Linked DNA regions of Homo sapiens. The protein of the gene in region 1 interacts with the protein of each later gene in a pairwise test. Each region holds a gene or a part of one and is shown on either strand. Other genes may lie near its edges. The genes, in order: PDE6G and L3MBTL3.

Region 1 (3,902 bases):
GAAGTTGTCAGTGGTCACCCACAGGGAGGTGGTGAGGACTCCAGGCTCAGGACCTGCCACAGGTTGGGAGGCTAGGTTTGCTGTGGATTGTGGGCCGGGGCGAGGGAGGCCAGGACAGGGGGGAGTCCGGAGCTGTGTGTGGCCAGCGTTGCAGGGGGGCATCCACTAGGCAAGGGGAATGGGAGCGTGCGGGTGGACCCAAGCAAAGCTGGCAGGCTGGTTACCCCAGGGCGGATTGCAGGGGCTGCTGTCTGGATGACGCTGGAGCTGGCGGGGCTGGGTCTCAGCCCCTCCACCGGTGGGTTGAGACCCCCACAAGGGTTGGAAGCAGGAGGGCTGACTGGGACCCGGGCCTGGTCTGCCCCCAGACCGCAGCAGGAGGGAGTCCAGGAGCCAAGGTTGCCGCGGTGTCTCCGTCAGCCTCACCATGAACCTGGAACCGCCCAAGGCTGAGTTCCGGTCAGCCACCAGGGTGGCCGGGGGACCTGTCACCCCCAGGAAAGGGCCCCCTAAATTTAAGCAGCGACAGACCAGGCAGTTCAAGAGCAAGCCCCCAAAGAAAGGCGTTCAAGGGTAAGCAGAGCTGGGGGATGGGGCCTCTGAAAGGGAGGAGGCGGTCCTGAGGCTGCACAGGAAGGGGAGGGCGGGGCAGAGCCTGGGGCCACTTCACTGGGTGAGTGGTCCCAGCCTCACAGCTGGGGAAGGTAGGGCGGTGCCTGAGGGCCTGAGCAGGGATGGAGGAGGGGGAAGGGGAATTGGGGGCTCCTGTCACCCGCTCCAGATGCTACTGCCAACCATGCTTGAAAATACAGCCACTGCCGGCCAGGCGCGGTGGCTCAGCGCTTTGGGAGGCTGAGGTGGGCAGATCACCTGAGGTCGCGCCCGGCCTAAAAAAAAGTTTTAATACCTGCCAAAGTAGCCCCCTAGGATCGCGAGTTTGAGACCAGCCTGACAAACATGGAGAAACCTGTCTCTACTAAAAATACAAATTTAGCCAGGCGTGGTGGTGCACGCCTGTAATCCCAGCTACTCAGGAGGCTGAGGCAGGAGAATCGCTTGAATCCAGGAGGCAGAGGTTGTGGTGAGCTGAGATCGCGCCATTGCACTCCAGGCTGGGCAACAAGAAGAACAAAACTCCGTCTCAAAAAAACAAAACGGCCGGGGGCGGTGGCTCATGCCTGTAATCCCAGCACTTTGGGAGGCCGAGGCGGGCGGATCACGAGGTCAGGAGATCGAGACCATTCTGGCTAAGAAGGTGAAACCCTGTCTCTACTAAAAAATACAAAAAATTAGCCGGGCGTGGTGGCGGGCGCCTGTAGTCCCAGCTACTCGGGAGGCTGAGGCAGGAGAATGGTGTGAACCCGGGAGGCAGAGCTTGCGGTGAGCCGAGATCACGCCACTGCACTCCAGCCTGGGCGACAGAGTGAGACTCCGTCTCAAATAAATAAAAAAAATACAACCACTGCCACCCAGGGACAGCCATGGCACAATGCACCGAGGAGTGTCCACTCACACATGCGCACACACGGGCATCTCGCTCCCATCAGTGCACCGAGGAGTGTCCACTCACTCGTGTGCGCACACAGGCACCGCGCTCCCATCAACGCACCGAGGAGTGTCCACTCACACGTGTGCGCACACACGGGCATGACACTCTTATGCACAAACACGCTCACACCTCCACATATGCACGTGAGGCACACTCACAGACAAGCCACCTTCACAAATCTACACTCAGACCATGCACCAACCACGCACCCCCCCGTACTCCCCCAGGGCACGCACCTGCCCAGCATCCTGGGACTTGCACCTCCTTTTCTAGGCCTCAGCCCCATGATGCTCTGGGCAGCAGACTCACCCTGGGTCTGTGAGGGAAGCCTCCTCAGATGCGCCAAGCCCTGGGAGGTTGGGGAGGAGGCGGGTCTCTGCCCACTGGGCTCCCAGCCAAACACCTCATCTCCTAGGAAGGCTAGAGATGACCTCGGGCCTCAGGCTGACTGAGCCAGGACTGGGCCCGGCCATGTCCCTGAGTGCTCTGTCCTTGCAGGTTTGGGGACGACATCCCTGGAATGGAAGGCCTGGGAACAGGTATGACGGCTGCCAGTACCAACCCGAGGTCTGCCCAGGTCCCCCCAGGCACACCCAGCACGCCCGGGGCCCATTGCAGCCCACCTCGGCCCCCACCTCCCCTGCTTTTCACTTAGGGACCCCCAGCCTGTCCATCACTTCTTCCCCCAACACTGAGCTCCAGATCCACTGGATCTAGAGGGTGGGGCTGTCCCCATTTGGGACACTTGCACCAGGTGAGGGGAGGGGTTTGGGAAAGAACAGAACCCCTCGCTGCCTCCTCCCCCTTCAGCAAGCCCCACCCTCCTCTGGTTCCCTCCCCTGGACCTGCTGCACCCACCCTCCTTCCCCCACAGCCAGTGTGTCCCCAGAGGAGGGCCCCACTCCAGCGTCCGCACGTCCCCGCTCAGCACACTGTAGGGCTACACCTGGGCTGTGGGAAACAGGGCCACAGGGGATGGGGGGGTCCCTAGGCCGTGGGATCCTCTCTGATCCGTGGCCCGTTTCTCCCACAGACATCACAGTCATCTGCCCTTGGGAGGCCTTCAACCACCTGGAGCTGCACGAGCTGGCCCAATATGGCATCATCTAGCACGAGGCCCTGCTGAAGTCCAGACCCTCCCCCTCCTGCCCACTGTGCTCTAAACCCTGCTCAGGATTCCTGTTGAGGAGATGCCTCCCTAGCCCAGATGGCACCTGGACACCAGGATGGGACTGCAACCTCAGGTCTCCCCCTACATATTAATACCAGTCACCAGGAGCCCACCACCTCCCTCTAGGATGCCCCCTCAGGGGCTGGCCAGGCCCTGCTCAACATCTGGAGATACAGGCCCACCCCTCAGTCCTGCCCACAGAGAGGCTTGGTCGGTCTCCACTCCCAGGGAGAACGGGAAGTGGACCCCAGCCCGGGAGCCTGCTGGACCCCAGATCGTCCCCTCCTCCCAGCTGGAAAGCTAGGGCAGGTCTCCCCAGAGTGCTTCTGCACCCCAGCCCCCTGTCCTGCCTGTAAGGGGATACAGAGAAGCTCCCCGTCTCTGCATCCCTTCCCAGGGGGGTGCCCTTAGTTTGGACATGCTGGGTAGCAGGACTCCAGGGCGTGCACGGTGAGCAGATGAGGCCCCAAGCTCATCACACCAGGGGGCCATCCTTCTCAATACAGCCTGCCCTTGCAGTCCCTATTTCAAAATAAAATTAGTGTGTCCTTGCCTGTCTGTGGCATATTTGTGCATGGGACAGGGCCTGTGGTGGGGTCACTTGAGCCGGAGCACATGGGGGAAGGGGTGGGCAGTGGGGCAGGAGGGGCTGGCCTGCCTGAGTGGGAAGACAGCCCTTGGGCTCACACTCTCACTGAGCCTTGCTGGTGGCCCCAAGACACGCAATGTCAGGCCATGGCTGGGTCAAGGCAGAAGGCCTTGGTGCACACCCAGGGGCCATAGTCAATGAAGCATGCAGGTGGCTGGAACAGGCCACACAGAGAAGGTGAGACTGGACATGGCTTACACCACACGCCGTGAGGCCGGAGCTCCTACTCCCACCTCACAAGAGAGAAACTGAGGCACAGTGACACTAGCAACTCCCCCAGAGCACCCAGCCAGCTCGTCCTTAGACAGTGCCCACTAAAACTGGCTGTATCTGGGCACAGTGGCTCATGCCTATAATCTCAGCACTTTAGGAGGCCAAGGCGGGAGGATCACTGCAGTCCAGGAGTTCAAGACCAGCCTGGGCAACATAGCAAGACCCTGTCTGTATTTGAAAATAACAATAGGCTGGGTGCGGTGGCTCACGCCTATAATCCCAGCACTTTGGGAGGCTGAGGCAGGCAGATCACGAGGTCA
Region 2 (3,818 bases), on another chromosome or scaffold:
CTTTATATTATAGTCCCCCAGTGATTTTCCTATTTCATGTTTATATCAAAGTTCAAGAATAACAGATATCGTCTTTTTCACTGTCTGCCTAAAGTATTCCCTAATTTTTTTTTGAGACGGAGTCTTGCTGTGTCGCCCAGGTTGCAGTGCAGTGGTGTGATATTGGCTCACTGCAGCCACTGCCTAGCAGGTTCAAGTGATTCTCCTACCTCAGCCTCCCGAATAGCTGGGATTACAGGTGCCTGCCACCATGCCTGGCTGATTTTTGTGTTTTTATTAGAGACAGAGCTTCACCATGTTGGCCAGGCTGGTCTCAAACTTCTGGCCTCAAGTGATCTGCCCACCTTGGCCTCCCAAAGTGCTGGGATTACAGGTGTAAGCCACCGTGCCCGGCCATATTTAGTAATATCTTATTCCCTTCTATTTCAATCATTACATTGATTTTTGTTTATGTCAAAAATTCAGGTTACTGGGTTGATATTTTTGGCCTGTCTCAGGGCTTTAATGCATTAGCCATCCCTTTGTTTTAAGTGAAAAAATAATGGCAGAGTGGTATTTTCAGATAGCTGAAGGATTCAACAAAATAGCATAGAAAAAGTGAGGGTGAAAAAGAAAATCTGTAAGCCTTTTCACGAATTGATCTCTTATATATGGTAAATTATTAGCTGGTTTTTTCATGCTGCTTTCTGGACTTTAATGAATGTAAAATAAAGCATATTCGCAGATAAAATAAGATGCTCAATTTCCTTTTTAAAGGAAATGTTAACTTCAATGAAATTGTAAAAATTAAGGGGAGGACATTTCCCTTATTGTAATTTGCCAGCATCCTTACTTCATAAACCTTAAATTGTCCTTCTTGAAGTGATAGGCCAAAAAGATTTTACCTGTTTCATTTCTATTATTTCCACCTTTCCACTTGTTCCTATAAGTTAGTCTTCCCAAAATAGACTAGGTGAGAGAAAAATAAAGAATTTTGACTATTGTAGTTCAGTATCTATACCGCTGAGGAATTCTACCTAAATACTGGTACAAATACCCTGATAATAAGTGTCCTGGGTATAATACATATTTGTTTCCTTATTCCTTTTCTTTATATCCATTACCATTCATTCAGAATTGGAAAATAATAATACAGTTTGTTGAAAATAAACATAGTCTAAATATGCATAGTTATGAATTATGAGTTAAATTTTGTTTATTTAAAAAGTCATTTGATTGATTTTGGCATGTTAGAGATAAAAGTGGGACTGGAAAACTAAGTGTAAAATATTGTGGTATTTGAATCAATCTGTTCATATGTGCTTACTCTAGGGTATAAAGAAGAAGAATTCAATTGGCAGACCTATCTTAAGACATGTAAAGCTCAAGCTGCTCCTAAGTCATTATTTGAAAATCAGAATATAGTAAGTACATACGAAACACGTTTTCTTTCAAAGGAAGAAGTTTTTTGAGTGTCTCATAGGATCAATTACAAGTGATAACAAGGAACTATAATAAATTTTATCGCCTTGGTAAATAGAGTACTCTTATCTTAATTAAAGTTTAAAATTAGCTTAAAATCTTCATGAACAAATATGTTTTATAGCCATATTATGGTTGTCTCTTTTATTGCATAGTAGAAGACAAGATAGTACAAGATTCAGGTGAGATTTACAATTAAGATGCATAAAAAATTAAATTGGCTGAGATATTTTATTGTTATTATCACTTATATGGGAGTGCTGTTCAAATGGGATTCACATAGCCAGATGAAGGTAGCCCTGTTTCAGTTTACATGTAGGAGGTCACTGGAGACTGTGACATATCTTCACTCTAGCTTATAGCTTTGTTTACAGTAAACAAAAACAAAATCTGGATGTGCGTGTCTTTTCTACTTGACCGGTATTCCTGCTTTCCATAACATGTTCCTCCATTGGCCGACTTGATCCATGACATTTTTCTTTTCCCAAGTTCTGATCTAATTGGAAAGAATAAAGGGCAAGCCAGTGGAAAACCAAAATGCCATCTTTACAGATGGTCAGAGCTGAGTTGGAGGACGTGCATGGCTTGTATCTGCAGACAAATAAGCTTGATTCTGAGCCCTAGAATGGAAGAGATTTAATTCGCCTTTCACGCCCATCCCCCAAGCCTGGAGAACACTAGACCCTTGAGGAGCAGAGTGGAAACTGTGCACCCTGCAGCCCAGCTTTCTCTCTAGTATGATCAGTTCCTCCTTTCCAGAGTCACCAGGCTGGTAGCAGTGAGTGAGACAGTGGGGAGAAGCAGTAATGTTTCACTAACAGCATTCCCTTCAAATGGAAATAAATAAATATCAAGAGCAGGAGAAACCTCCTCACTCCAAAAATCCTTCATTTGGGAAACAGTGTTAACCAGTTGGTTTGAGAGCATCAATCTAATGGCTGAAATGTTTTCTGATTTAATCAAACACAAACCAGGTTGGATTACAGAACTGACACATTGTGTTTGTGTGCATGCGTATGTGTGTTTAGGTTAGTAATAGTGTTAATGGGCCAGCTTATTATTTTAAAACATCTTAATTGAGAGGATAGTGTAATTGCCAAAGTGTAACAGTGCATTGTCAGTTGGTATTCTCTGTCAAAACTTATCCCAGGGAGGAAGGTCAGTTGGGTGGAAAACTTAGCAGCCTGCTGTCTCTGCTCCAAGTTTCCTAATCCCTGTCTGGTTCTCTGATGATGACTTCAGTCAGGGATTTGATTAACTGCCTTGAACGGTCTTCCTAAATTCTATGCATTGCCAGCATACAACTTAATCTTGGGCTCTCCATTTCGTATCTAAGAGACAATTAATTTTTCCATTTCTAGATTACCTCAGAATACTCAAACATTTATGATCAGAACTCGGATAAATTTCAGTACTTAAATGCATAGTAAAGATTTCTGTATAGCATTAGTGCCTGTTCTATCCATTCAGACACAACTTATTCTAACATTTTCAGATACACGGCTGTCTACATTTTTGCAATGATAGTTGTATAATTATAGTAAAATGAGAGATAGCATTTATTTTGCCTAAAGTAGTTAGAATAATATCTGTATAATTGAGTCTAACAGAGGTTTTTGTTTGTTTTTTGTTTTTTGTTTTGTTTTGTTTTGTTTTTAGGGAAGGAATGACTTGTAGTGTGTTGTGATTTGCATAATTGGTATCTAGATATACTAGTCTATAATATGTAGAGATAGATAGATTAAGATATTATTCCTCACAAAAGATTGTAAGAGATTTTATATATTACTGTACCTTAAGCACTAACTCTTACAGAACTTTCATTGTTTTTGTTCCATGTTCTGAATGACTGGTTATCTGTGGATTTCTTTAAGTTACCAACTATTTTGAATAGCTTTGTACATCAACAGCCAATTCTTTTGCTGCTATTAGGAATAAAATATATCTGTAGTGTTGAGTAAAAGTTGTAATAATTTGCAGCCTTTCATATATGAAGATGACCTACTTTCGAGAGTACTCTTTTGAGAGATATTTTCGGAAGTGGGAGTGAATTTGTACTGACTCATGCACATTTTTAACTTGATTAAGTGCATATTTTGTGTGAATAATTTTCATTGTTAAGTCTGTAATCAAGAAAAGAAGGATAAAATGTGAACTATATGGTGAATAAAACTTGCCTACCTATTACAGTTTTCTAATTAAGGCATCAAAACACATGTTAAAATTAATTATTTTAAATTCTGTGAGGTGATGGATATTTTCGTTTTGAGGCCCAGATAGCTAATTGGGTGTAACAGTAGGACCTTTTTTTTTTTTTTTTTTTTTTTTTTGCGGCTTGTTGGAAAGCGACCCTGCTG

What was found.
Region 2: the proteins of PDE6G (region 1) and L3MBTL3 interact in binary tests that used the Homo sapiens proteins (3 or more experiments, as listed by UniProt).

The regions. Positions count from the first base shown.
Region 1 is NC_000017.11:81,649,831-81,653,732, reverse strand, and holds the end of PDE6G (retinal rod rhodopsin-sensitive cGMP 3',5'-cyclic phosphodiesterase subunit gamma), read left to right. Parts: intron 1-6; exon of another isoform or gene 7-75; intron 76-368; 5' UTR 369-427; coding exon 428-573; intron 574-2,047; coding exon 2,048-2,088; intron 2,089-2,582; coding exon 2,583-2,659; 3' UTR 2,660-3,274; downstream 3,275-3,902.
Region 2 is NC_000006.12:130,067,019-130,070,836, forward strand, and holds part of L3MBTL3 (lethal(3)malignant brain tumor-like protein 3), read left to right. Parts: intron 1-1,311; coding exon 1,312-1,403; intron 1,404-3,818. UniProt on the Homo sapiens protein: Is a negative regulator of Notch target genes expression, required for RBPJ-mediated transcriptional repression. It recruits KDM1A to Notch-responsive elements and promotes KDM1A-mediated H3K4me demethylation.